Linked DNA regions of Homo sapiens. The protein of the gene in region 2 purifies or fractionates together with the protein of the main gene of each other region. This does not show direct contact. Each region holds a gene or a part of one and is shown on either strand. Other genes may lie near its edges.

Region 1 (4,108 bases), on a different chromosome or scaffold from region 2:
CCCAGACCCATAAAATAGTGGTGACCACTAGAAATTTGAAAGGGCCTCTCTTCCTGTCATCCCTTAGGTCACAATATCCATCTCAAACTCCAGAAAGGACAGCCACAAGAGGAGAAATTCCTTTTTTTTTTTTAAGTCTGCTCTCACAGAGCCACGTAGCAAGTTTGATGGAGGGTGCATGCCTTGGCACATTGCTAAGCACGGCCACTGACTCCACTGGGGTTGAGCTTGGTTCAGCTCTCCCTTTGGGGGTAGAAAATAGCCCGGACCTGTTAACCAACTGCTAACTCAACTGTGGTCACCAATGCCGGCTTTCTTTTGGTTGACCAAAAATGTGTCCTTGGTTCCCTCTTTCGCCTTTCTGGGACTGCATTCTTCCATCTGAGTCAACAAGGGGGAGAGATTCGAGGAACTGAATAAAAGGTCTTTCTTTGGGCACTTCAAGGAACATATTTTGATAATTATCTTCTGCAGGGTTCACAGAGTGGGTTTTCAAAACAGCCAATTGGATCGGTAAAAATAAAGATTTCAGAGTCTTCTCTGGAGCCAATGCTATATTTAAAGTGCAGAATAGCTATTAGTTTAAGGTTGGAGAACGCTATAAGTAAGGTTGCAAAATTGTTTTCATTAGAGCCCTTCCGCCACTACCCCCTCTCCACAGGCTTCCTTTGTGGGTTTGTCTGTAATCGGTTGGGAATCCGCCTGCCCGCTCAGGTCTCAAGACACAGGTCCTTTCCCTTCAAATCTTCTTGCTCAACAAGTTGTCCTTTTCTGCTTCCGTGGCTCTGCCAGTTTCTCTCCTCCAGCACTCGCCCCTTTTTTGGTCCCCATCCTCAAGCTCCTGCATCCCTAAAGCCACATCTGCTGCTCTGAGACAGGCTTCCCTCCCGGTTCCTGCTACCTCCACCTGAATCCCTTTGGCTGCCTCCCACCCTGTTCTTGGTAACCACAGAGGTTGTGGGTAAATCCCTGCTTTATCCTAAATCCCCTTTATCCTAAACAACTTTCTTGCCCTCAACTTTTCTAACTTGGACCCTATTCCAGGTGGTGCAATTCTTCATTAGATGAGCACGGCCCACTCTGCACAGACATTCAGCATCCTGGCCTTGCCCGCTAAAGGCCAATAGCAATCCCTGGTCATTGTGACAACCCCGAATGCCCACCCATTTCTAAATACCTGCTCGCAGGCTGGTGCTGCCTCTAGTTGAGACAAGAACCTAGGCTACTCACTCAATGCAACAGACTCCCCCCATTACTTACACACTGATCTCCTCTCTGTCCACAGCACCAACCCCCCCGACTCCCCTGAACCCCATGAATTCAGAGGGATGGGAGGGGTGGGAATCACTGGCTTTCTTTTCTTTTCTTTTTTTGTTTCTTTTTATAGACAAGGTCTTGCTCTATTGGCCAGGCTGGAGTGCTGTGGTGCGATCATGGCTCAGTGCCGCCTAGACCTCCCGGGTTCAAACGATCCTCCCACCTCAGCCTCCTAAGTAGCTGAGGCTACAGGTGTGTGCCATCACACCCAGCTAATCTTGCTTATTTTTTGTAGAGACAAGATCTCACTATGTTGCCCAGGCTGGTCTCAAATTCCTGGCCTGAAGTGATCCTCCTCCCTGGGTCTCCCAAAGTGCTGGGATTACTGGCATGAGCCACCATGCCTGGCCAGGAATCACCAGTTCTCTTGATCCCCGTTGTCACCCCTGATCCTGCAAATCCTACCCTGTCTCGCATGGGCACCCCACTTCCCTCCTCTGAGTTTCATGTTCCTTATGCGTAAATGGTGGGGAGATCGTCCGCTTCAATGAGCTGCTGTGAAAATCCAATGAGACGTATATGAAAAGTACCTGGTACATCGTAAATGCTTAATAAATAGTAGTAGCAGCCACTTTTATTAGGATTATTTTTCTATCCTATTCCAATTAATGCTGCCATTTATTGCCATCTCCCAACCCCCATCACTCCCAGGACCAATTTCCAACTTACAAGAAATCAGTGTTTCAAAACATATCCTATGGGACACTAGTCCCAAATTATTCTTTGTGAAAAAGGATTATTTGATCAAGTAAGTGTGGAAAACATGGCATACTCTATCGCCATCTTAGAGATTCACATTCACATAGTAAGCATTTTGAAAAGTCCTGCCAAAAAAAATAATAAGCCCATTTAAATCTGTGTTTAACTCCACGTTTCTCAGACTTATTTGGTCATGGAACTTCCTGCAGATCTTGAAAAATAAATGTATCTTTTAATTCTGGGACCTATGTTCAGAGGCAGAGGGACTCTGACTTTAGGGAACACTGTTCTGGACAATGACATCACCTGGATTGGATGAATTCTTCATTCTGTCTCCTGCCATCAACTTGAATGGAAGCAGCTTTTCTGTTGAAACTCAGGGCTCTGGACATGGGATTTACTGTCTCATCTCTACACATCCTGCCTGCCCTCTGGAGCTTAAGGCTTATTGCTGTTCCATCTGCTTGATCTCAAGCCCCTTGCCTTCTTCATCCCCAATGCACTCAGCCTTTCCTCGCTCTCCTTCCTCCAAGTTCTCATTCGCCCTGACCTCCAAGCCCAGCCCAGTCCCCAAGGGTTGAGTTCTGCCCCATGGAGCCTGTAGTTCTCTCTCCTGGCCATGGTCCCTTCCATCCTCAGCCTGCTTTCTTCGAATTGCACTAGAGAAGCCTGGAGCTGCAGGAGAGTGTCAGAGGGGGGCATGCATTTGGCTTCAGCCAAGTCCTGCCATCTGGATCCTCACTTCCCATTCCTGGGTTCCTCCTCAGGTCAGCCCACCTCATTCCCCAAAGATGAGCTCACCCCCTCCTTTTCTGAAAGGATCAAGACCATGAGGTTCCAACTTCTTTCTTTATCATCCACTAACTCTGTCCAGATGCCTACACTTCAAACCCAGTCTGGGGGAGGGATGGGGAAAGAGGCCTTCTCGTGCATTCTGAGTAGCCTGGCACCCTCTGTCAATACTGCAAGGGCGAGTGCCCTTTGACTCAGTAATCCTCCTTCTAGGAACTTCATGTTAAGAGAATAATTACACAATTAGGCCAAGGTGTATGTGTAAAGGTGATCACTGCATGCTATGATAAATCTGAGGGAAAATGCAAATAGCTAAAATGCCCATCTCCAGGGGATTGGTTACATAAATGCTCGTAGAGTCTTACTATGGGATGTTATGAAACCATTTTTTAAAAATACTGCAAGCTGGGTGCAGTGGCTCACGCCTGTAATCCCAGCATTTTGGGAGGCTAAGGCAGGAGGATCACTTGAGCCCAAGAGTTTGAGATCAGCCTGGGGAACAGGGTGAAACCTCATCTCTACAAAAAATACAAAAATTAGCTGGGCATGGTGGCATGCATCTGTAGTCCCAGTTACTTGGGAGGCTGAGGTAGGACAATTGCTTGAGCCTAAGAGGTTGAGGCTGCAGTGAGCCATGATAGTGCCACTACCCTCCAGCTTGGGCAACAGAGCAAGACTCTGTCTCAAGCAAAGAAACAAACAAACAAAAACAAAAGCAACAACTAAAAACCAGCACTAAGAACAAAAACGCTAAGTAATCGGGAGGCTGAGGAGGGAGGATTGCTTGAGGTCGGGAGCTTGAGACCAGCCTGGGCAACATAGCGAGACTTCATCTCTACAAATAATACAAAAATTAGCTGGGCATGGTGGCACCTGCTTATAGTCCCAGCTACTTGGGAGGCTGGGAGGATCCTTGAGCCCAGGAGGTCAAGGCTGCAGTAACCTACAATGGTACCACTGCACTCCAGCCTGGGCACAGAGTGAGACTATGTCTCAAAGTAAAATAAAATAAAAATAAAAATAACATGGATAGTGTAATCTTATCTACATGAAAAAAATCTGTGCAAACATACACAGAATGATTTCTGAAGAATGTTCATCTACATTTTGTCATTTATTATCTCTACAGGGCAGGAGTTCACGTGAGTGAATGTTTTTCCTTTTTGGAATTTTTTGATTTTTAAAAAAATAATAAATGTGTTATAAAAAGGTTAAATGCAGCTGCTCGTAATGCAGAGTCTATGTCTGTAACCATCTTTTCTCCTTCCCTTGCCTCCCGATAAAGAGATTCTTTCTTCTC
Region 2 (4,108 bases):
TTACAGTTGTACAAATGTTCTCCGCTCATTCCCTTCAACTATTTGTGCAAGCTCATGGGTTTCAGTCTCTGTTCAGTCAAAGATGGAGTCATTTATAGCATAACGATTAAGGTCATGGAGTCTGAATCCCTGCTCTGCCAGTTGTTCTGTGGCTTCAAGCAGGTTAACTTCCCTGAGCCTTTGTATTTTCATGTGAGTATTGGCCGGGAATGGTGGCTCACGCCTATAATCCCAGCTTTTTGGGAGGCTGTGGTGGGCGGATCACCTGAAGTCAGGAGTTTGAGACCAGCCTGACCAACGTGGTGAAATCCTGTCTCTACTAAAAAATACAAAAATTACCCAGGTGTGGTGGCGCATGCCTGTAATCCCAGCTACTTGGGAGACTGAGGCAGGAGAATTGCTTGAACCTGGGAGGTGGAGGTTGCAGTGAGCCGAGATCACACCACTGCACTCCAGACTGGGCAACAAGAGCAAAACTCTGTCTCCAAAAAAAAAAAAAGTATTAATCTAATACCTACTTTTCAGGGTAGTTGTATTACTTGAGATGATGTATTTAAAACGCCCAGCATTTTGCTTTGGGAGGCTGAGGTGGGAGGATCATTTGAGGTTAGGAGTTTGAGACCAGCCTGGGCAAAAGAGTGAGACCCCTGTCTCTCCAAAAAATAAAAATCATCCAGGTGTGGTGGCATGCACCTGTAGTCCTAGCTGCTGGGAGGCTGAGGATGGAAGATCGCTTGAGCCCAAGAGTTTGAGGTTATAGCTTTGATCACTCCACTGCACTCCAGCCTGGGTGACAGAGGGAGACCCTGCCTCAGAGAAAAAAATGCCTAGCACAGTACTTAGAACACACAAAGACAATACATTGTAGTTGTCTTTTTTATAGCAATTATGAATCATACGTGGAGCTTGCTGGTCTAATCCAGCTTTTTAAAAAGGATTCAGATGGAATTGACTTTCATGTCATTGAGTAATGTCTTGTTCAGTTGATTCCTGTAGGTCTGCCATCACCAGGGAAATACAGTAATATTGTCGATTTTGGAGTTTAATTTAAATGCTCATGATCTGCAGGTCTGTGTACTACAGACTGTTGCAACTTTTTTTTTTTTTTTTTTTTGAGACTGAGTCCTGCTCTGTCACCTAGGCTGGAGTGCAGTGGCACGATCTCAGCTCACCTCTGCCTCCCAGGTTCAAGCAATTCTCCTGCCTCAGCCTCCCAAGTAGCTGGGATTACAGGCACCCGCCACCATGCCCAGCTTATTTTTGTATTTTTGGTAGAGACAGGGTTTTGCCATGTTGACCAGGCTGGTCTCGAACCCCTGACCTCAGGTAATCTGCCCATGTGAGCCTCCCAAAGTGCTGGGATTACAGGCGTGAGCCACCATGCCCAGCTGCAACTTTTTATCTTGTTTGCAGTTGGAGAAATTACTGTTTTTAACATTGTTTCTTTTCAATACCTGGAAATTTGATCAAATACATTGTCATTTCATTTCACCTTTTTTCTTGTTTTGAGTAATTTACTGTTTTACATTATAGAATTTGTTGTAGCATTTTATTTTAAAGCATTCTTAGCATATTTATAGGTATTCTTTAAATGAGTCACTACTGAAATACATGATTTTTATTTCTTTTGTTTTGTTCGGATTACCTTCCTATTACTGTTAACCATCCATAGTTTTGGATTGACTATCAGGGTGTACTTTTCGTTATCGTGGAAAAATTAGTTGACCCCATACACAGGCTTCTAATCATGTAGCTATTCTTTAAAGACTCAGATTAACAAGATTCAAAGGTTGTTAGATAACTTCTTGTTGGTTTTATGTGACCCTGGATTCTTTTGTGTGGCTGTATCTCTACTGTCATTATTATTTCATAGGGAATTTCATAGAGAATAGTAGTATCATATACTATTGCAGAGAGGATAGGAATATGCATTTTTGCAACCCTTATGAGGCCTTCTGACTTATTGTTTCTAGAAGATCAAATATTTTTTCCTGAAAGTCCTTTGAACCACATTAAATAGGCTAAGGATTAAATGCCAAAAAGGAGATAATTTTTTTTTTAATTTTCTGGTTTATGTTTAGGCATTATTTACCTTAGGCTGTATTTAAAAAGAACCATAATGGTAAGAAAACAGTATGATTTTAGAAACATGCATTCTATATTATTGGTTTCATTATACATTTCTGTGTGTGTGTGCACAAAAGAATGACTGCATAAAGCAAAGGTTCACATTTTTTTTAATTTTATAAATTCCAGGGAGAAACACATCTCATCTTTCCTAAAAAAGCTTCAGTGGAGCAGCTGCAAAAAATTCGTGACCTGATTGCCATAGAGAGAAGTAGCAGACTGGATGGCTCAAATAAGAGCCACAAAGTAAAGTCATCTCAGCAACCTGCAGCCAGTACCCAGCTTCCTACAACACCATCTTCAAATCCCAGTGGGTTAAACCAGCACACAAGGAACCGTCAAGGGCAGTCATCAGATCCACCATCTGCTTCAACGGTAATGTTAGAATTAAACCTTCTTTAACTGTTTCTTTCAAAGTGTTGAAACAGCAAAAGCTTTGGAATGTGTTATGATTTATTCCTGAATTTATGCCCCATATTTTGTTCTTAGTTCTTATAACTCTAAAACATCCAAATTTCTTCAGCTCTTTAAAAAATTGTCAGATTTCCTCTACTGCATTAATACTTCTGATCTAAATTGTACCTGCTGCCTTTCACTGTGGGGGTTATTTCCAACAGCACAACCATTATCAATACCTTAATTCAATAAAAAAGCTTCTTTAGGTTTAAGGTAATTAAGAATGCATTAATTTAATGATAGTGGATGCTAGCAAATTAGTGAAATTTTATTATTAATATACACCATATATACTTGTGAAGAACTAAAGTCAAACTTACAGGCATTCTTGATAAACTGAAATGATTCCATTTGATAGGAAATTATCCTGTTTACAAAAATCTCTTTTGACCAAGGTCCTTACATATTCTTCTCCTAAGTTTTTACTGTCAGAAAAATTCTTGTGATATTTCTGTAAGTCTAACAAGCACCTCAATGGATTTTTATGCCCCTCCCTGAGATCATGTGCATTCCATTTTGAATACCTTAGGTCTTCATCAGTTTTGCAGTTAAGGTTGGTACAGTTACAGAAGCTCACTTAACATCTTTCTTGGTTTTTAACACCTTTTCTTAGGAGTTTTCCAATTACAGTGTTAGAATATATCTTTTAAGATTTCCTACTTTATCTTTTTAATTGCAGTATTATAGTTTAAAATGCACATAGTTAACCAATCTGCAAAAAAGCTTGCAAACATTTTATTTTACAAAATATCTCTTTCCTGGGCTAAGTAGTATTTTGTTAGTGTCCTGGCTCAGGAAAGCCATTCACATTTTCTTAATCTTGTTTAAACTTCTTTTCTTTTGTTTTGTTTTTTTCTTTTTTTGAGACAGAGTCTCATTCTGTCCAGGCTGTAGTACAGTGGCAAAATCTTGGCTCACTGCAACCTCTGCCTCCCAGGTTGAAGTGATTCTCGTGCCTCAGCCTCCTGAGTTTCTGGAAATAAAGGCATGCACCATCTCTCCTGGCTAATTTTTGTTTTTTCTTCTTTTTGAGACGGAGTTTCACTCTTGTTGCCCAGGCTAGAATGCAATGGCACGATCTTGGCTCACTGCAACCCCCACCTCCTGGGTTCAAGAGATTCTATAGCCTGCGCCTCCCGAGTAGCTGGGATTATAGGCACCTGCCACCACACTTGGCTAATTTTTTGTGTTTTTAGTAGAGACGGGGTTTCTCCATGTGTGCCAGGCTGGTCTCAAAACTCCTGACCTCAAGTGATCCACCTGCCTTGGCCTCCCAAAGTGCTGGATTACAGATGTGCACCACCACACCCAGCCCTTTTTTTAAGTTCTTAATCTTACAATTCAGATATAGTTCCAGGTCTTTAAAATCCTGTCCGTCACCAGAAAGCCTCTAAACACTACACTAAAAACAGAATGTCATTCTGTTGGCAAAACACATTCTAGTGTAGAAGAAAATAAATTTTCTCAAAGGTGTATGCTATTAGTAGGCTAGTGTATATCAATTCTTACTACTCTAGTCCTTCAC
Region 3 (4,826 bases), on a different chromosome or scaffold from region 2:
TCATAAGTGGGAGTTGAACAATGAGAACACATGGACACAGGGAGGGGGACATCACACACTGGGCCCTGTTGGAGGATCGGGGGCACAGGGAGGGAGAGCATTAGGACAAATACCTAACGCATGCAGGGCTTAAAATCTAGATGACGAGTTGACAGGTGCAGCAAACCACCATGGCACATGTATGCCTCTGTAACAAAACTGCACGTTCTGCACATGTGTCCCAGAATTTAAAGTGAAATAAAATAAAATAAAATTCCCCATGCATTGCCTAGTTCTATGTCTGCATCCAGCAGCACCTGAAATCCCGGCCTGATGCAGCCCCGGCAGTTCATCTCATTTTATTTTGCCTGAAGTCTCCAAGCAAGTTCTCCCAGCTCAAGGGCCAGCATTCTTTCCAACAACTCATCACTCCTCGTTATGCAAAGGGAAGAACACCAAGGGCTTTCTGTATTCTGAGCAATAATTCGGGTAATGAAGTGAGAGCTTAGCCTCTCTTGTGAATGCTGAGGAACCCTAAAACAGCATATCTTTTGCTTCCAAAAAGATCTAGCATAGCAATTTTGTTGGTTCATAAAATGCTCAAATGCTCAAACCATATGTTTAGCTACAATTCCCAATGGCTATATCCTTCTTTATATGAGTAAAAGAGGAGGTTTTCAGCATCAGGTGGAAAAATAAGTATGGGTATTGGGGAAAATAGTCTAAATTTAACTCTGAGTCAGTTCCAAGACAGTGGAGGTGATACCAGGTTCATGGCCTGGCATTTCCCAGCCTGCGAATTCTGCTTCAAGTCTGCAAGTCTGCCCAGTAGGTACAAGACAAATCATACCCAAGGACATTTGTACAGAAACATGAGCCTTGCTAGATCCCTCCCTTGTGCAGGGTAGCTTCTATGAAACATATAGACCAAGCAGACTTCCACATCAGTGAATACATTTGGCCATCTGAAAATACAGAGACTTAACACATATGGAGACCTGTGGCTTCCTCGGGCCAGCCTCAGTTTGAAAGCAAGGGTGAGATCTTTGTCAGACACTCACGGGACCTGTGCTGCCCATAAAGGAAGGGGCCCTTCTCTCAGGACAGCACAAGGGAAAACACCCACAGCCGGAAAAGAAGGTGTGTCTCAGCATGACGGAGGCTGTGTGCAAATTATTCCTTGTGCCAATATCAGGAGTGTGGATCTGACAAACAAAAGGCCATGTCATTGGCTTAGTGTCTCTGTGGAGTCTGTAATGGTCCTTTTACTTACTTGAGTCCTTTCTAAGATGGATTTTGTTCATTTTCCACTAAGATTGCAGAAGCTGCACGTGGCGTGGCAGTTTATGAATTGGGTCCCCTGGCAAGGCTCTGAAAGACAGCTGGAGTGGGGGTGGGCTGTGTGTGTGAAGCCGCTGCACAGAGCTGGAGTCGGCTGTCCACACAATCACGTCTATGTGAGAGCCGGCAGCCTGCAAACTGCTTCCCTGCAAGGGGAGACACATGCCAGGGGAGGGCCAGAGAATTTTGTTAATTCTGTTTATCTTAGAGACTGTTTTTTTGTCTGCTGGGGGAAATAAAAAACAAATACATAACTTCCTTGCTTGTGTGCAGTCTGATTTTTTTCTCTCTCTCATGCCCTCATTTTTATTTCTCCGAAGTATCTCTCCCCTTCAGTTTGGGGCATCAGTTTATGGCATTTTTCCGTACATGTGTATATAGTATCTATGCACAAAGTCAGAGATATAAATGTCTGTTTTAGACTCTTTTGGCTTTAGTGTTCTGTGGAGGTCCATGAGATATCAGAGATCTCATTTTCTTTCTGTTAACATAATTAGCAGAGCTCTCTCTGTGCTCAGAGTGCATAGCTGAGTCCCGCATAACCAGCAATAACAGTGCATTCTTAGCAGCCTCCCTGGATAGTTTGCTAAATTCTTTCTGAGAGCCTCTCGCTGCCTTTACAAAGGTTATAGCTGAAAAACAAACCAGAAACTGGGAATCCAACTCTGTGAGCAGAGAGAGGGCTGCACATTCTATTATCGCACGGATAGAGGCTCAGGTTCATGCAGTCGCGTTTGGAGTCCTGGCAATTTCAGATGAAGGCCGTCCTTAGGAAAATCAGCTATCCCAAGCCCAGGCAGTCTGGGTTAGCCGAGGTTTTTGTTTGTTTTGTGGAGTTTTTGCTGGTTGGTCTTTTGTAGATGCTGCAAATCACAAATGGGGAACCTGAACGACACAAGCTTTTTCTTCTCCGTATCATTTTACCTGGCCAAAAAGGCAAAAGAAGGGGAAGGTGGCATTGCTAAGTCACAGGGAAGGATATGACCTAAACATCCCCCCTTCCCCAAGTAATCCGGGAGCACCACTCCCCTCTGAGGACCCCACAGGTACTTTCACAGTCCAACACACTGAGAAACAAGCCCACAGGGTGCCAGGATGACATGACCACAGAGAAAAGGGACAGAAGGAGTTTGGGACACATGCACGGACACCTGTTGCTTTTGCAGACTTGAACTTAGAAAATATGAGCCTCATTAGAATTTCTCTTTCTAAAATAAACGACCACTTTTAATATCGTCAAATATCATGTACTGCTATAGTTCTCTGTCCTCCGCACTGAGAATCCAAAACAGGTCCTTGGGATAACTTTTGGGAAACAATACCGCCACGAAAACAAAAGTCTTCTCAGCCAAGAACACAGATTTTTTTTATCTACCTTTGATGTCCCAAAGGACTAGAGAATCCAGAGCATTTAAATAAGACTCCAATGCCAGGAGCTCACTGTTCCCTGCTGGATGCCAGCCCTCCCCTCCCTGCCCAGAAGAGGACATGGTACTCACCAGTCATTAGGGTATAATAATTGGGATACGAGAGACTAGGGAAGTCTGGAGTCAAGTAATCCACTTTTACTCCCCTGCTCACAATCTCTTTGAAACCAGGCAATGACTCCAGCGCCTCATCACTGATGTAGTCTGAGCGAAAACCATCCAGCAGAAACACCAGCAGCTTCCGGCGGGCAGAGGCTGGCTGGGCCAGGCCCAGGGCAAGGGCCAGCAGGAGGGTCCCAAGCTTCACTGCCATGCTGCCAGGAGCCTGCCAGAGCCCGGCTGGCACAGCTGTCGCCTTGCAAAGACTGAGGATGGAGAATCTGTAGCTATTCTCTCTTCCAGGGGCTGGACCTTGAGCCGCTGGCCTTCCTGAGTCAAGTTCACTTGCAGAATTTAAAGGAACAGCACCCCCTTTTCCACACATCTATGCTCACCCTTTACTAGAAAGTCCAGAGACCGACTCCTTCAGATAAACTGGGTTCCAAACAACCCAGAATTAACACCAGGGGAGAGAGTTCAAACTTATTATTTTTGGTGAACGTTCCAGAAATACAAGCACCCACAGAGGTGGAATTTTAGAAGATGACAAAGTCAACACTAACTTTGCAGTTGAGCTAACCAAAGGGAGGAACCAAGGAAAAGGGCAAGATTTTAATTTGCTGTTATCCCACATCATGGCCTCATTTAAACTCTTTTTCACTTAGAATTTAGTAACGCAAACCTCTGGACTCAGTGCATAAACAGGAAACAATACGTTTCGGTGGGCCCATTTGTAAACTTCCCAGCTGTGTCTCTGTAGACACAGCACTTAAAAAAGTTATTTGTCTATGTCTTGGCCACTTATGTTTTTATATGCAGTGTTATTATTTGTTATTATTTTATTTTTCAAATGTGATTTAGCTGCTGGTGCCCATAGGAGGAGGTGGTTCGTAGAAGAGCCCTAGAGCCAATGAGAAGCTTCCAGAGTTGGACAATGGGAAATCATTACTGGCAGAATGGTCTGAAGCAGCATTGCCCCAGGAGGATGGAAATGAAATAGAGAGCTGGAGATTGAGAGCTTGAGATGGAAAAGCAGAGCTAGAAATTACCATGCAGGCTTTGGGACCGAGAAGACTAGGCGGAGTGGAAAATAGGAGGAGGTTAGTGACAGGGAGGCAGATGTGAGCTGGGGAGCAGACAGAGTTAGCACAAAGTACCCAGAGTCCAGGGGTTCCCTAGAGTGGCTCCGTCATGCTACATAAAATTAAACAACACAATTCATGTGAAGGCTTATAAAACATGGCTGAGTGCAGTGGCCCACTTTGGGAGGCCAAGGTGGAAGGATTGCTTGAGGCCAGGAGCTTGAGACCAGCCTGGGCAACACAGCAAGACCCCATCTCTATAAAAAATTAAAAAATTAGCTGGGCCTGGCGGCACGTGCCTGGTCCCAGCTACACAGGAGGCTGAGGTGGGAGGATTGTGTGAGCACAGGTGGTCATATCTGCAGTAAGCTGTGATTGTATCACTGCACTCCAGGCTGGGCAACAGAGTGAGGCCCTGCCTCAAAAAAAAAAAGACATAAAACATGCATGGTCCATAGCAAGTGTTGAACAAATGTTAGATGTTATTCGCATTATAACATTGCTTGTCTCCTGAGGAAACTTGCAGGCTCTGGGCAAACTTTCCAGGGAAGGAAGATAGACACCAGCCACACCAGCCACTCTCAGTCAACCCCAAAATCCCTCTTCCACCTCTGCCCTCTGCTTGTGTCTTTTCTCCTTCTCTTTTTCTGTTGTATTTGAGTCAAGCCCAAACACAGGATCACCATGTCACTTTTTAAATTATGCTGCAAAAGAGAAACACATTGGCCAAATTACCACTCCCCTCTCAGGGGACTTGGCCAAGGATCAGAATTCTTTTTTCCAATAAGAGGTAATGCTTTTTATAATTAAATTTAAATTTTTTTCTTATTAAAAAATAAGGAAAAGGGGAGTTTATCCTAAAAGGTTGTTACTTTGAAAACAATGTTATTCTTTTTTC
Region 4 (4,108 bases), on a different chromosome or scaffold from region 2:
ACCAGTGTGGTTGGAAAATAAGGTATTGGAAATATAGCTCTTTCCAGCATTATCAATATAATTTTTTTCTCCTTTTATCCTTAGTATAGTAATGCTAATTTTTCTTTGGCTGGTCAGATGAAAAAAAATGGCTGATAAAACGACTGTAACACAAACAGAAGAGCTAGTTCCAATCATAAATCAGACCTCACTATTCCTGGTACAAGGGTCAGGAGGTAGGCAAATTAGCCTAGTTTGGTTACAGTCCACCTAATGTCAATTTTTTACATATGCTTGCTGACATATGTAAAACCACTATAATAGCAATGCACCCTAAAATTCTACAACTATTTAATAAAACTAAACAAACATGTGGTAATGTCTTCTAAAAGGAGTACTCTCTGGCACTTAAGCTAACTAACCTCAAGAAAAAGAATGCCTCAAGAAAGAATGCAAATAGAAGAGGGATAAATGAAGAGCTGAAATATGAGGTTGATTTCCAGCTACTGTACATAAAATAAATGGTTCTCAACTTTTTAAAAACCACAGATCCTTCTGAGAATTTGACAAGAGCTAAGAACCCTTTTCCAAGTGAAATATACAAAACTTTCTATGTCCACCCATGGCCTTTCAGGTTAAGAATGTCCATTCTAAACAGATCACATTTGAACTCCAAGAAGAAAGTCCCAGACTTACCTGCCACTGCCAAAATAAGCGTGTTGGTGAAATGCCGATACAAAGAGAGTTTTACAATGTTCCTCCGAAGTTTTAATAGCTTCATTGTTTGAGTCAGGCTAATAAATATGTGTTTGCAGGTCAAGGAATTCAACATTCAGGAAAAAACAGTAAGCTAGCCAATTAGTTTTCAGGTTTCTTTAAGGATCTGGGGTCATGCCAATAAACTTATAGATCTCTCAGAGGCCTTATAGCTCTCTTATTCTCACTTAATCTCACAAACACCTCAAGATGAATAAGAAAGTCATCATTTTATTTTCTTTTCCTTTTTTTTTTGTGAGGCAAGGTCTAGCCCAGGCTAGAGTGCAGTGGCACAATCACGGCTCACTGCAGCCTTGACCACTGAAGCTCAAGCGATCCTCCCACCTCAGCCTCCCAAGCAGCTGGGACTACAGGCATGTGCCACCATGCCTGGCTAATTTTTAAATTTTTTTGTAGAGATAAGGTCTCGCTATGTTGCTCAGGCTGGTCTTAAACTCCTGACCTCAACTGATCCTCCTGCCTTGGCCTCCCAAAGTGCTGGCATTACAGGCACGAGCCACCATACCTGGCCGGAAGTCATCATTTTCAATGAGACATTAAAGAGAAGACAGAACCAGAATAAAGTAAGAATGTACAAAATCACAAGAGAAAAAATATAAAAAAGAGAAAGGAAGAGGCTTTCTAGAGAAACAAAAAAAAAAGACAGAAAATAAATAGAGAAATGGCAGAAGATAAAGTGAACATGAGTAACAGGCAAGGGACAAAGAGTTAACATCATCTTCTCTCTCCCTTTAAGGTGGGTAGCTCTGTTCTCATCTGTCCAGCAAATCTAGTTGAGGGTCATAATTATACTCGTGCCTATAATCTCCCAGAGATCTACACTCAGTCCCCTCATGCCATCTTAAGGAACCTGCCATCAGTTGCCTGCACTATCCTGAATTAAGAGGACCTTACAATTGGTTGAGAAGCTCATATGGTTTGCTTCCAAAAGCAATGACTCTCCATTTTCAGAACATTATTCTCAAGTAGAAGTTGCCAGAGAAAAACAGGAGGGGAATTGGTGACTACTAAAAATGGTATCTGCTCTCACGTTCAATGTTCTTTTCTTTTTGAGACAGGGTCTCACTCTGTCACTCAGGCTGGAGTGCAGCGGTGCGATCTCGGCTCACTGCAACCTCCGCTTCCAGGGCTCAAGCAATTCTCCTGCCTCAGGCTCCCGAGCAGCTGGGACTACAGGTGCAAGCCACAATGCCTGATGAATTTTTGTATTTTTTGTAGAGATAGGGCTTCGCCATGTTGCCCAGGCTGGTCTCAAACTCCTGAGCTTAAAGCAATCTGCCCATCTCAGCCTCCCAAAGTGCTGGGGTTACAGGCATGAGCCACTGCACCCGGCTCAATTTTCAGAATGAGAAGCAGATACAAAAATAAGGGATTTGGCACTTGCTCTGCCCTTACAGAGCCGTAGCTGTTACCTAGTCATTGGGTTATCTTACTGTACAATCCATTCCCACCTCCCTCTTCTCTCAACGCTTGCAGAGGTTCACAAAACACTTAGAAAGATACTAATCTAGAAAAGCTTTGGCTATTTAGTCCAAGGACACTTTAACTGAAAACTCTTATACAGCAACCCACTCAAATTCACAAAACAATTTTGTTTACATTCACAGTTTTTCAACAGTCACAATCTATCAGGTCAGTAATAATGAAAACTGCTAATAGGACCAAATATATAAAAACCAAAACAAATTCAATAAGATAAAGTCCAAAAACTTGAATCCTTTAGCCATCAGGCCAAGCCCCTAATATATAAATTTAATTTTAAAGAGCAGGAGAAAAAGATTGCTCAAATAGAAGCTTGTTTGTTATCTGCTGGTTGACTCTGCCTGTAAATGAATCAATTATTTATTCTGAAGGGTGGAAATCTTCAAACAATTCCAAGCCAGCTTTTGAATGAGGCAAGAAAACACTCACTCCATAAGGGTTAAAACCTGCTGAACATACAGAGTTTCAGAAAAGTCAAAGCACCTTACATAGTTCCTGAAATCAAATTTTAAGGATCAAAATCTTTTCATAAGTTTCAAAGCATTTAAGAATTGCTAGAGGCTAAAAGGCAGAGCAGGACCAGCACAGCCAGTGACTCTAACACTAAATGATTAGGTACACAAACAAGAAGTGCAAAATCAAGATGAAATGCTCACTTAAAAGAAAAAAGCCAAAAGATTTTATCTCGAGCTCGGTCCACAGTCACCAATTTCCAATTTGATTTTTAAAATTAAAAAAATAGAAACAAAAAAAACTGCTTACCTGAACCCTCAGGTTGTTAAGACTTAGCATGCACTGTTCCCCACACTAAGGAGTAATTAACAAAACTGATAAAAACTCTTTGCAGAAAGATCAATGGAAACCCATCTCAAGGGGAGAAAATGGACCATCATCAAACAAGCCAATGAGAAGGATATCCACCAGCACAAGGCAGTGTCTAGGAAAGCCAAGGGGATAAAGGCCAAGGAAGCAAGATCAGTCTGGGCCTGCAGACAAAGAAAAAGAAGTGGTGAAAAACAGATGTCTAGAGAGGCACAGAGAAGAAACCACCACATGATTCTGCATTTACATAATCACTGGAAAGTTTTTGCATTGAACTGAAAGAAAATAAAAAGAACATTTGACACCTAATCATTCTTCCCTTCTTATAAACCATCACATAGAATATACAGCTATAAGCATTTCACATAAATTGTCATTTACAATCTCGAAACATACTGCTAAGTACGAGTTTTTCATATATAAAGATCCATGTTAACAAGTGACCATATTCCAAAAAAGTTCTAATGTTTATAAGCCCCATCCTTAATCTATCATTTCCTATTATTGCAATTTTGGCTACAAGTCTGAAAAGACTTTTCTCGTATTTAAAAAAAATTACTGCATCATATACAAAGAATTATTAATTTCTAAAATTATAATATTTTACAAATAAGAGCTCACCCCAAAATAAAATGTAAGGCAATTATCTGTCTGAAAAACTATGCTGCATGTTTCCAGGAGTTTATATAGAGTATGTTTTTTATATAACCCTAATTACCCAATCAACAGGCATTACTGAAAGGATATCCATAAAATAACACAGGCGTCAATTGCTGAGAGGGCCAGGTTTACTATCAGAGTCAAGGGATAAGAAAAATACTATAGCAACAGCAGAAGAAAGAAAATGAAATTGACAGAGGGTTAAAGTTGCTAGAAGTCTAAGAGAATTACATACAGAGGACAGTGTGATTTGAAAAGCAAATGTGCATCCACAAAGTGTTTGATTTAAGAGGCAATTTATTGCAAAACATATTGAGCCGTTTTCTTGTGGGCAAAGCCAAGTTTATAGTTTTTACAATATTGAATCTAATAGGTTGCTGTGGAGTCT
Region 5 (4,108 bases), on a different chromosome or scaffold from region 2:
TCACTTTTTTCCTGAAGATCCACTGTTAAAGACCATTTCTTTGAGTTCATTTTATTCATGTGATTTTTAAAAATAAGACTTCCTTGATTCCCAGAAATAAAAAGAGCACAGACGATCTCTTCATTTTTTCCATTACAGCTAATTTTCTACCCAGAGATCTGAAGACAGTTTTATATTCCCATTTCCCAAAGGAATAAATTTCCTCTAATGAAAAATATGGCTACAAATTAGCCTTTTTTTTTTGAGAAAATTTTTTATTGGTAGTCTTTTTTGCTAGTTTTTAGAAACTTGGAGGCTTATGTGTTTTTTATTGCTATGAACTTTAGCTCAACTGTCTAAAAGTGTAATAGTAAATAAATTATTTAACATAGAATTGTAATGCAAGCTGATTCACTTTCTTTCTGGTAAGCTCAATGTATCCAGTTTGTCTTTTGAATACCTATCAATTAATTTGGCATATGTACCTTCAAATTGATTTCTGTTCACTGCTTTATGATATTCCCTTATTAGTAGTCTGCTTTATGCTCTTGCTTGTAAGATAATTTTAACTTAAAGAAATTTTAACGTGAGAAAATAAGATACTCATGATTTACAAAGATTATTTTCTTCTTAGCAAAGAAAAGTTGGGTTGAATTTTGAATGTCTCCACAAGGTGAAAATGCAGTTAAAAAAAAAATCTGTACCATAGAGAACGTTTTTGTTGACTTACTGAAATTTAAGGTCTGTATGTGAGTGATTGAAATAACAGTTTCAAATATAAGTTGTTCCCTTTACATTTTCTTCTTGATTTCCTTTCATAAGCAATGCTTATTCAAGGTCATAAGATTAAAAAAGAAAATGGTGCACCAATACTTTGTTAGCATTCTGAGTTTCCTGTATAATGAGTCAATTATGGGGATGTTATTTATTTGAATTTAGAATCCGCTTATTTTGGACTAATGGAGATTTTAATTCGTGATCAAATTTGGCTGTAATTTACGAAGAAGCTATAGTGCTTGTCAATTATATGTAATTTCCTAAGCCTATCACCTATTTGTTATTATTTACTTCTATCAAATTTTTGCTCTTAGCTTACTTGAAAAATCTGAATGTTTGTATAGTGGTTTTATTTGTGAGATGTACATATCTATCTTTATAGGATTCTTTGGTCATACTGTTAAAAAATACAGTTCTTTTGGTGATCTTGTTCAAGTCTTGGGTACTCCAGGCAAAAAAGGCACTAGTTTGAATCCTTTGCAGTTTGATAACCCAGCAGAATTATATGTAGAGGACACAGGAGATATTTACATTGTGGATGGAGATGGAGGATTGAATAACAGATTGATCAAACTGTCCCAAGGTACATTACTTGTTTATGGTATTATAAAAATATTATAAATTGATTTTAATTTGTTCGATATTTGGTATAATGTTTTAAGTGTTGTGTATGAAGCGGTGTGTAAAGAGCTAAGTGTATTACTACGAGAAAACTGAAAAACAGATGGGTATGATTGCCCACAATAAATGATCCTGATAACAGGCCCACTTATTCTTCACCAAAGGCCAGGAGATTCCTCCAAAAGTAACTGGCAACAGTATGAGAATTTCTAGTGGGCTCAGGAGATAAGTGTGTATCCTATTTAATTAAGCATGTAGAAATTAGAAACCTAGAATCCCAGACTCAAGTATCCTACAGGCTGATTAATCAGCAAGCATTTTATTGAGTGCCCTTTCTGTGTCCTCTCTAGTATCAGGAGGTGCAGATCTATTATGTATTGAAACAATGAAATGTAGTCTATGCTATTGATTCTTAAAGCAAAATGGACTTAGGAGGAGAAACTAAATTGCCTGGAGAAATAGAACAAGATATCATGAAGGAAGTAGTTATTGAACTAAACTAGTTTTGGTGGGAGGAGAGGGGAGGATGGATGGAACATTCATGGAGGGTTTATCATGCATGGTCTACAGGCATTTATTAGCAGGAAAGAAGGTGAAGATGCACTTTTTCAGCAGCAGAAAATACAATTTGGGATGTTTCTGAAGTCTTATTTGAGGATTATTAAAGCCATGTTTTTGCCTATAACATTTTTGAGGTTTTCCTAGTAGAAAAGTGATGTTACAACAGCAGGTTTTATAAGACATTCTTTTAGGATCTACTTCAAGTGAGCTCTGTCATTTGGAGGCTGTGTAGTCAATTTATCAATTAGTAACTGAATTTGGTTGATAACAGTTGAAAGGGAAATGTAGAATAAGGATAAAGCAAGAATCCAAAAAATTGAATGAAAGAAACAACGAAATCTAGGAGACAGATTGAATATAAGTGTATTAGTTTCCTGTGGTTGCCATAACAAATTGCCACAAACTGCGTGGCTTTAAACAACATAAATTTATTCTCACAGTTTTGGAATCCAGAAGTTAGAAATCTGGTAGACTGTGCTCACTCTAAAGGTCCTGCCTTGCCGCTTCTAGTTTCTGGTGGCTCAAGCATTCCTTGGCTTGTGGCAGCAAAACTCTGATGTCTGTCTCCATATTCACATGGCGGCCCCTTCTTCTCTGTGTGTTTTTGTGCCTCCAGTCTTTCCCTTCTTTCTCTTAATAAGGATTTAGGGCCCACCCTAAATCCAGGATGATCTCATGAGATCCCTAATTTAATTTTATCTGCAAAAACTATTTCCAAATAGCATCACATTCCCAGGTATCAGGAGTTAGGACTTGGACATCTTTTTAAAGGACCACAGTTGAACCCACCGTAGTGCGTAATAAAGGAGATAGACGGTAAAATCATAATGTGAATTTTTAAGGTCTGTGGAATACTAATATCAAGTAACAGATAAGTTGGGAAGGGGAACCAGTTTTAGGGAGAGGATGGCATAAACCCTAAACAATGATTTTGAAGCAGTCATGAAAAATTCAAGTGGAGATAATAATTAAAGAAGTAGATTAATTCCCTAAAGCAGAGAAGGAACTTTAAAAAAAAAACTGTAAGAAATGGGCAAATGGGCATATAGACAGGAAAGCCGAGAAAGCATAGTCAAGTGAACCAGCGGTGTAATTAAATAGTTCTTTGTAACCTGTTTCATAAAATATGCAAATGCATGAGACATTCTATATGTTGCTCTGACTATATATTTTTACCGTTTATAGATTTCATGATCCTTTGGCTGCATGGAGAAAATGGGACAGGGCCTGCTAAGTTCAACATACCTCACAGTGTTACACTTGATTCAGCTGGTCGGGTACAAATACAGCGTCATTGTGTCTGGGACTTTGTGTCTGAATATGTTTGTGTGTGTGTGTGTGTGTGTGTGTGTGTGTGTGTGTGTCTGGGCATGTATATATAGATTGTGGTATACATGTGTGTCTGGGCATGTGGATACATGTGTGTTAGTGGGTATGTCTGGGTAATTACTCTGGGGCTGGGTGTGCACACATACTTTCTTACAAGTGTTTGAGTCCTATAGTGAGGGGGTTCCCCAAACATTTAGAAAGGAGCAAAATGGATTTCCTGTACCATTTAAAAGGATAGAAGGCACAAATAATGGATCTGAACATAAAGTTACCTGAAAGAAAAAGTTGCCCTCTTACTGGGAAAACTCCACTAAAAGTGTTTGAATATCTTTTCACTTCTCAAGAAAAAAATGTGCTGATCTAAAGTGGAGTGGGAGAGGTTAACCTTGGAAGTCTGAAAAAGAGTCACCTAGGCAAACTCTTGTTCTCACTAACTCCACATTGTTTAGGGAACAGAAAGCTTTAGCCAACAAATTTCAATCAGTTTCTCTCTTTTCTACCCTACTCACTACTATCTCTTTTGCATTTACTCAATTTCTAAGCATAGATCTCACTTCTTTGAGGTTACCTTTTCACAACGAAACCGCCACCAAAAAATTTGTATATTAGTTTCTCCTGCTCTTTTCCTATAGCAGCCTGTACTTCGTATCATAGTAACTATCATGCTATATTATAATCATTTGTCTGTCTCCCCTAATAGATGTCAGGCTGTTGAAAGTGCTTACTGAATCTCTTTTGCTTTATTTCTTTGTGCCTAGTACACAGTAGTCATATTTATTTATTAAATGACTAAATGTCTTGACACACAATGGGTACATTAGGCTACTTGCCTTCATACCAT
Region 6 (4,108 bases), on a different chromosome or scaffold from region 2:
TCAAGGAAATTCATAATTCAGTGTTACCACATTTATTACAGAAGAAATCATACATGCTTATACCCTAAGCATGTGTACATCTACTATGGGGATTACTTACTTGTTATGTAAGTTTCAAAACTACATTTTAACCAGAGTTCCAACCTCGTCCTTCACCACGACCGGGCAAGTTCCAATACCAAAATTCAAGAGTCAGAGATAGAGATGGCAATAATCTACAAGGTTAAGATTCTTAAAGCTACCTTTTATTATCATAATTCAATACTCAAAGTTATCTTACTAAACAGTGCTTTTTAAGGTAGGTAAAACATACTTAAGCAAATTTCAGGCAAAGAATAAACTTCCTATAGACAGAATCATACTACACTGCAAAATACCTACGTAAGTCAGATTGAAAACCATTGTGTTTTAATTAAACAATCACACACCTCAATCAATGTTTTCACAATCATTATCTCACCAGATTCTCATTACAAAATACTTTAAGATAGGCAGGATAGATATTATCTCCATTTTACAATGAGAGAACTGAGGTTTTCATGATTTGTAAGTAGAAGAACTTACTTAAGAGCAGAAATCCAGGTCCACTAACTCCTTTACATCATGAATTTAGATAAATATCAATAATTAGTGCTCTAAAAACTTGGAACTGCACATTATTCCTTTGTACAAGGCAGCATTTTAATTTTAAATATTATATATAAAATACCTGAAGGTTATGTTCAAAGCAGGTCAGGGTGTGATTAAATAGATTAAGGAAATATACTGTGCTGTTTGATAATTCTTCACTGTTGTTTGTTAAACAATCTGTCAAAAAAATTCAAAAAGTATATTAATATAACTCAAGGAACAATTCTATGTTGTCATTTATATCTTAAGCTATCAGCTTCGTTTCACACTACAGTAATTCTTTATTCAAACAAGCATGAATTTTCCAAATATATGAAGCTTACTCCTTTTATTTTCCAAAAGTTAAAAAAGTCATAACCATTTTCATGAACATGTTAAAATAATCACATACTCTCTTTTCATAAAAATATACCAAATAAAATTCAAATGGACTTTTGATGGCACAAGGTCATAATCACGGAATATCAGCTATCAAATGCTGCCTTAACAGTGCTATTTAGGCATAAGACTGTTTACCCTGCATTAATTTTACCGAAACTCATATGCCTTATCATTTTTTGTGTCAAATTTCATAGTTCTCTGCATCTTCCAACTTCACTAATGAGTCATTTATTGTACCTAATGGGGTAACTTTTAAAATTCGCTCTTTCTAATCCATCACGAGTTGGGAGCCCAGAGAAACAAACTGGTGAGAATTTTGCCTAAAATACTGACGTGGGGGCTTCAAGTAAAGTCTAGAAACAAAATTGTTTTACATTTTTAAAAATCCTACATAAATGGTATTTCTCTGCAACTGGCTATTCTTGCTTAGAGTTAGCTCAAGTTCACTCATCCCTTTTATTTTCTATGTATGTGTATATCACAATTTATGTATCCATTTTCCCTTCTTCAGGGAATAATCTATTCTTCTTTTTTTTTTTAAGAAACGGGGTCTTGCTCGGTTGCCCAGGCTGGAGTGCAGTGGCACAATTTGCCAGCTCATTGCAGACTTGAACTCCTGGGCGCAAGTGATGTTCCCACCTCAACCTTCCAAAGTGCTGGGATTACTTAAAGGCATGAGCCACTGCGCTCAGCCAGGGAACCTAGTCTTTATCCTCAGGTAAACCTTTGTCTTTACCTCTCCTTGTGTTCTCAGCCTGCTATCTCCAATCGAGGTTCAACTGCCTGGTTCCAGATCTTGGAACTTGTGGTCAGTCGTTTCCATCTGACTCTCCTAGAATCCTTGCCCTCTTTATCTTCCACATATTCACAGCCATTTTCATCCCTGGACAGTCCCCATCTACTTTCTGTACTCTCAGTCTGGTTACAGAATACTACTACAGAAATTCTAAAATGATAATGAAGGGACTCAATTCAAATTCATGTGTTCTGATCTCGGGGCAACAAAATGATCCTTGTAGATGCCCTCCTAATTGCTCTGCAAGGGATGTTCCACATATTTTCTCATCTCTAGTCCCAGCCCTACTCTTGTTCCCCTTAATTTCAACAGATGGCTTTGTATTATGCCCACCTTATTTAGAAATTCAGGGCCATCAGATAGGATCTCTCTCAACTGGAAGTGGAAAGACAACATGCAAAGCTATTGCAATTACCCAGGAGAAAGGCAGCAAGGCAAGTAGAATTTGTGGAGAAAAGAGAGACGGACTAGGTAGACACTAGGATATGACACACTAAGGGACATCCATGTACTCTGACAGACAACAATTACTACAACGAAAGTTAACACTTACTAAATACTTGCTATGTTCTAAGAACTATGCTTACACTGCACTTTAAACACATTTGCCCATTTAATTCTTGCAGTGATTCCATGAGGGAAAAATTATCATTATCTCCATTTTATAAATAAGGAACAGAGATAGGTTTAGATAAATTAAGGAAGTTGCCCAAGGACATAAAACTGGTAAGTAAAAAGCTAGACTCTGTACTCAGTCTGATTCTTGAGCCTGCACTCTCAAACACTGCAAAATAAACATATTTATATCTACATTCTAAACCATTAAAAGTTCAAGACTCGGAATCTACAAATACATGCCACTGCCTACTCCCTCCACTACCCATAGATATCTTACACCATACAGGGATTCAGGCAGTCCCCACCAACTGATCAGAGTTAGCAACTGAGATGAAACCTAAACCTGGTAGACAGGGGCAGACAGCACAGTAAAGCTCCTTTGTGCAAATCAGAAAAAGATATTCCCTCTGGGTAGATAAATTACAAAAGGTCATTCCTGCCTCCAGAAGCTAAGCTGGAATTCAGCCCCATTCACCTCCTTGTACAGCCCCCTTGTGCAGGGCTCCTTCTGCACCCATTGTACACAGGATCCTCTTGGTAAACCTATTTCAGGAGTTGTCCCCTCTCTGAACTCACATACTCTACATTCTCTGAAGCTTTATCTTCTCCAGAACATGAATCTCATTCTAACTTCTCACCCTTATTTAAAAAATCTGAGGGATCACTACAAATTAGGAAACTAAGCCACAGAAATAGGTGATATGCTGATGATCATACCACAAGTTAATAAGCCATTGATATAAAAATAGGCCAGCATGGTGGTTCACACCTGTAATCCCAGCATTTTGGGAGGCAGGTGGATTGCCTGAGTCCAGGAGTTCGAGACCAGCCTGGGCAACATGGTGAAAACCTGTCTCTACAAATAATACAAAATTAGCCAGGCATGGTGGCGTGCATCTGTGGTCCCAGCGGCTTGGGAGGCTGAGAGGGGAGAATTGCTTCAGCTTGGGGAGGTCGAGGCTGCAATAAGCTGTGATTGCGCCACTGCATTCCAACCTGCATGAAAGAGTAAGAACTTGTCTCATTGCCCCTCTTAATGCTAGTTTAATATCATCATGAAGTAGCCCGCAATCCTTTTAGGGATGAGGCAGAGTTGATATAAATAAAAACAAACAATTACATAGTTTTTGTACATGTTTACAAAAACAATTATATAGTTTTTGTAGTTGATGTGTTGCAGGGAAGTTAAGGGAACACAATTTCATTCACAACAGTTGTACATCTGTGTTATAATGAGCTATGTCGTGACAACTGACATAACAATATAGGGATAAAAGGGGTCCACATACTGCCAGCAAAAGTAGTATAAAGTGCATTATCATGAGAGAGCAATAGCAAATTTCTTCTATGCAAGATACCTAATTAAAACAAATAATTTCTTTTGCAAAAGCAATTTATAAAGAAAGCTTCTCTGAAGAACAAAAGAACTTAATTTCTTTTATTAATAATTACATTAATGCATTACCATCAAAACTTTTTCAATGATCATTAGATGGTGGTAACATAAAGCATAAAGCAGTTCATTTATATAATGGGGTTAAAAAGTCTTCATTATTAAAAAGCCATGACTTTCTGAATCGAAATAACAGATCTCTAGTAAATTCCTTTTTTATCTTTTTGCAGGAATTGGGAGCTTAAGATTATAAACAGTGAGAAGCTGTATGTTTTAGAAATTGGTGAGTT
Region 7 (4,108 bases), on a different chromosome or scaffold from region 2:
CGGCTCATTTTCTGGTGACACTCAGAGATATAAATAAGGCCCCTAATTTAACCCACTTTGGAGTGCAGCTTTCAGTGACTACATGAGAGAGAAAAGGGGCCTACAGGAGCAACAATTAGTGGCAATGCAGAAAACGAGTGAGGAAGATAGAAAATGGACTCCTTTTGCTGGTTTGCATGAAGACATACTGAGCATCTGGACAGGCTAGCTCCCCAAAGTATGTATTCCTGTCTACACTGCTACTTGATTCAGATTCCTCTCCAAACAGGAATGCAACTGGGGAGAGGGTGGGAAGAAAATGAAGTGTTTCAAAAGGTCTATTTTTGAGGTTCTACTATTATATTCTAGCCTAGACTTAATGATCTTTGTCCATGCCAAAGTACCTTGCACACAGCACATACTGGGCATTGTAAATGTTTTACTAAATTGAACTGATTTTATGGTAAATATTTACTGAACCAAACTGAACTGAAGGCAAATAATTTTCTAAACATAGCTTTTTAAAAGAAACAATAAATTAACATGGTTTTAGAAGTAAAAATAATAAAGCTCTTTTAAAAAAACATTTTACAGTAAAATACTTCCACCCTATTCCCAATCAGAAACAACTGCCATTAAAATCTGCTGTGTTGATTTGGTAGAAATATGCATATCTCTTCACCCCCACCTTTAACAAAAAGCAAACGGGGTGTATGCTATACACACCATCACGTGCCTTGCCTTTTTCACATAACACTATCACATTGTTCATAGGACAATGGTGATCTAAGTCAGCATCTACAGATAGCCGCATTTTTTAATTCCTGCATAGTATTCTATTGAATGTACATAGTCTGTTTTATTTAACCAATTCTCACCTGATGGATTACGGGGTGACTGTCAGACAATACTACTAATACAATGCATAGATTTGAGTCTAAGTCTTCATGCAAGGTGGGAATATATTTATAAAATAAAATTCCTCCTCAAGTTCCCAGGTCAAAGGGTATACGTGTTTCTAATTTCAATAGGTATTGCAATATTACCCCAAAAAAGACTACCTGATTTACATTCCCTCTAATAAAGTATGAGCACACTTGTTTCCTCACAGGCCCCATAGAGTATAAGCAAATTTTCTGATCTCTGCCAACATGGTAATTAAATGTTTTTGATTGCTGTAATTAGCCTTCTTTCCTAAAATTAAGAGTAATGGTGAATATTTTTTCCCAATTTACCTGAAAAAAAAAATCAACATCCTCAGACTTTGGACTTATAAACCCCATATGCAAGCAGTATGCCACGCCATTCAAGGTAGCTTCAAAACATTTAAGACAAGCATTAAAAGAACAAAGATTAAGTCACACATTTAAAAAAATTATGTGTGTCTACTATGTAACAATTATACATTTCCTAACCTGCCTCTTCCTCTTTTGAAGGACTTTTGCATCTCCCAAGAAAATAAATCCTATAAAAGAACTCAGAACACTAATACTATACCACTCTAAGACAGTTACATAGAAACATGTATAATATTTATATGATTTCTTTTACAAAAGCAGACATATGTAGACCACTCATATACCGTATGAAACCAATGCTGCCAACTTACCCATTAATAGATTTGAAAAGTATTTCATAGTCTTTCTCTGTAAGATCCAGCCTGAAAACAATAAAAGTTATTGTTACATTTGTGAAACTTAGAAGTAAACCTCTAAATGAAGTCTCCACATTTACTTTTAAAAAGCCAAATAAAAACAAATTTTTAATTACTAGACAATATTACCTCTCTACTTTTCTAGAGGCATTTTTGCAAACCACTTGAAAGCCACATCATTCTATCCTTGTTTTGCTAATCAGACAAGTAAATATGTTTTTCTGTGATCTAATGCAATTTAATATTGTGAAGTATGTGTTAGTATGCAAAAACAGTAAAGACCGTGAGATTTGGCCACCAGTAATTTCTCTACTAACCAAGAACTACAAAAAGAAATGTAAGAATATTCAGTAGTTTTATGTAAAGACTCCTTTAAATAACTTTATTTATCATGCCTATTTAACTACAGGAAGCTCTGGCAGATTAAAAAATGCATAAATAAATGCCAAGTCGCTGCCTGATCCCACCCCAACAAACTAGTTGCAACAGTCTAGGGACTACTCTGCATTTCAAAGTCAGGATGGTTCACATCTAGTCTGAACTGAGGACCACAGAGAGATGACTGTAGAACAGCCTAACTGCCCAGGTAATTACTCTGAAAGACCCTTGATCAAACACCCCTTAAGGGCCTCCTAACAATCGCCATGTTATTGGTGACTTTATTCCCTTTCTCCAGAAAAAAAAGATGGGCTTAATCTGTGACATATGGTGACAACATTTACTAAGTCACAGATATCTGCTCTCCCGAAAGTTCAATAAAATGCAACAATAAGGGAAGAGAGCACCAAGTTAGTGAAATCCTTGCAAGAACTCTCCCACATTTAGCAGCCTTCTGTTTCTGTGACAGAATAAATGGTACCTGTCCTCTCAACCTGCCCTAAAAGAAGTAGACTTATGATTAGATGTCAACTAGTCCATTTCTGCCCTCAAAGAAGTTTTAGGGGGAGGTAAAGTCCCTCACACCCATTATTAACTAGACACCTGTGATATCCAGAACACAGGCTGTGTTTTGCCAGCAAACAACTCTGGGATCTACTCTAAGTCCAAACAAGCTTTGCAAGTCCAGGTCTCTCACAAGTTCATAGTAATCTCTTCCTGGCGAGAGCCACAAAGCAATGGGTGATACCAGAATGGTGCTTACCATTCTTAAGTGGAGAAAATACTGACAGGTAGCCCTGCCTTGGGAAGTGATAGGGAGGTGAAATATCAATATACATGTACCCAGTATTCTGCCAGTCTAATCTCCCCAGATTGTGGCAACAAAAAGGAACCAGCCAGTCAGGACCCAGAATTCTCCCCATGGATATTTAAACCAAAATGGGCAACCATCGCCATCAGGGACCAAAATGGATTTAGATCACACAGCTGCACTCCAAGGATTCCTGCCAGCTAGCGGTGCAAGCTAGTTTCAGTCATTTCATTAATTCTAAATAAATGGCTCCCACACTGTCCATGACTATAGTTTTGGTCCCCATTTATCTCTATTAAGAGACCTAATTGTCACAGGGGAAGGAGTGTGCCATGTCACAACTCTGGTGCCTAGGGGCCCTGGCAGAGAATACAGCTGTTAGTTGCATGTTGTCAGACATTTTTTGAAACAAAAGTCCCTTTCAACAAGGTATGAGGAACAGTTTACTCTCTCCTTAACTGTAACGAAATGGCTTAAGCCTGGTGATGATGGCAAATGACACACAGCTTTAGCAGCATGAAAAGGATGGTAAGGCATTGTTGCCAATGGGGAGTGTTTGCCCCATTTAAAACTCAATCTAGATAACTGTCTTCAAAAGAAACAAAAATTCAGACTCTTATAAAGTTTGATTTGTGGTCTTTGGGGTTTTTTTGAGAAAGGTCTGGCTCTGTCACCCAGGCTGGAGTGCAGTAGCGCCATCTCAGCTCACTGTAACCTCCACCTCCTGGGCTCAAGTGATCCTCCCACCTCAGCCTCCTGAGTAGCTGGGCCCATAGGTGCACGCCACCACTCCCAGCTCATTTTTTAAAAATTTTTTATAGATAGGGGTTTTTCCATGTTGCCCAAGCTGGTCTCAAACTCATGAACTTAAGCGATCTTCCCACCTCAGCCTCCCAAAGTGCTGGGATAATAGACGTGAGCCACCGCGCCCAGCCTGATTCATGTTTTAAAACGCTGTGTGAACAAAACACGTTTTTAAACCAAAAGCAGCAGTCCATGGGCTCCTGTATGCTACCTCTGAGGAAGCAGGACATTCTCTTTTCCACTAGTCCCACATTGGGCATTTATGACAACCTGAGAGCACCAAGCGCCTGAGACAGAAGGGGCAGAAAGAAGGCAGAAGGAAACCAAAGACAAATTTCTGCATCTATTTCAGAATGCTTCCCAGGTCTCCCATCTCTTCCTTTTCACTTCTAAACCACAGAAGTTGACTCCCAGCATCCAAAATTCAGAAATGAACCTAACATCATCATGATCCAGTCTTATTTTGCATCAGGTAATCCTTC

The links.
Region 1: the proteins of NGLY1 (region 2) and SCARA3 purify together in Homo sapiens (co-immunoprecipitation; one large-scale study listed by IntAct). This does not show direct contact.
Region 3: the proteins of NGLY1 (region 2) and ENPP6 purify together in Homo sapiens (co-immunoprecipitation; one large-scale study listed by IntAct). This does not show direct contact.
Region 4: the proteins of NGLY1 (region 2) and TMEM87A purify together in Homo sapiens (co-immunoprecipitation; one large-scale study listed by IntAct). This does not show direct contact.
Region 5: the proteins of NGLY1 (region 2) and NHLRC3 purify together in Homo sapiens (co-immunoprecipitation; one large-scale study listed by IntAct). This does not show direct contact.
Region 6: the proteins of NGLY1 (region 2) and OSTM1 purify together in Homo sapiens (co-immunoprecipitation; one large-scale study listed by IntAct). This does not show direct contact.
Region 7: the proteins of NGLY1 (region 2) and GGH purify together in Homo sapiens (co-immunoprecipitation; one large-scale study listed by IntAct). This does not show direct contact.

What each region holds. Positions count from the first base shown.
Region 1 is NC_000008.11:27,640,100-27,644,207, reverse strand, and holds part of SCARA3 (scavenger receptor class A member 3), read right to left. Parts: intron 1-4,108. UniProt on the Homo sapiens protein: Seems to protect cells by scavenging oxidative molecules or harmful products of oxidation.
Region 2 is NC_000003.12:25,762,460-25,766,567, reverse strand, and holds part of NGLY1 (peptide-N(4)-(N-acetyl-beta-glucosaminyl)asparagine amidase), read left to right. Parts: intron 1-2,256; coding exon 2,257-2,502; intron 2,503-4,108. UniProt on the Homo sapiens protein: Specifically deglycosylates the denatured form of N-linked glycoproteins in the cytoplasm and assists their proteasome-mediated degradation. Cleaves the beta-aspartyl-glucosamine (GlcNAc) of the glycan and the amide side chain of Asn, converting Asn to Asp.
Region 3 is NC_000004.12:184,214,760-184,219,585, forward strand, and holds the start of ENPP6 (glycerophosphocholine cholinephosphodiesterase ENPP6 precursor), read right to left. Parts: upstream 3,115-4,826; 5' UTR 3,061-3,114; coding exon 2,820-3,060; intron 1-2,819. UniProt on the Homo sapiens protein: Choline-specific glycerophosphodiesterase that hydrolyzes glycerophosphocholine (GPC) and lysophosphatidylcholine (LPC) and contributes to supplying choline to the cells.
Region 4 is NC_000015.10:42,228,037-42,232,144, forward strand, and holds part of TMEM87A (transmembrane protein 87A isoform 1 precursor), read right to left. Parts: intron 3,880-4,108; coding exon of another isoform or gene 3,808-3,879; intron 3,225-3,807; coding exon 3,156-3,224; exon of another isoform or gene 3,086-3,155; intron 785-3,085; coding exon 676-784; intron 1-675. UniProt on the Homo sapiens protein: Potential monoatomic ion channel gated by mechanical force, implicated in normal touch sensitivity through the generation of mechanically activated currents.
Region 5 is NC_000013.11:39,040,967-39,045,074, forward strand, and holds part of NHLRC3 (NHL repeat-containing protein 3 isoform a precursor), read left to right. Parts: intron 1-1,138; coding exon 1,139-1,339; intron 1,340-3,123; coding exon 3,124-3,215; intron 3,216-4,108.
Region 6 is NC_000006.12:108,053,781-108,057,888, forward strand, and holds part of OSTM1 (osteopetrosis-associated transmembrane protein 1 precursor), read right to left. Parts: intron 808-4,108; coding exon 710-807; intron 1-709. UniProt on the Homo sapiens protein: Required for osteoclast and melanocyte maturation and function.
Region 7 is NC_000008.11:63,028,579-63,032,686, forward strand, and holds part of GGH (gamma-glutamyl hydrolase isoform 1 precursor), read right to left. Parts: intron 1,640-4,108; coding exon 1,589-1,639; intron 1-1,588. UniProt on the Homo sapiens protein: Hydrolyzes the polyglutamate sidechains of pteroylpolyglutamates. Progressively removes gamma-glutamyl residues from pteroylpoly-gamma-glutamate to yield pteroyl-alpha-glutamate (folic acid) and free glutamate.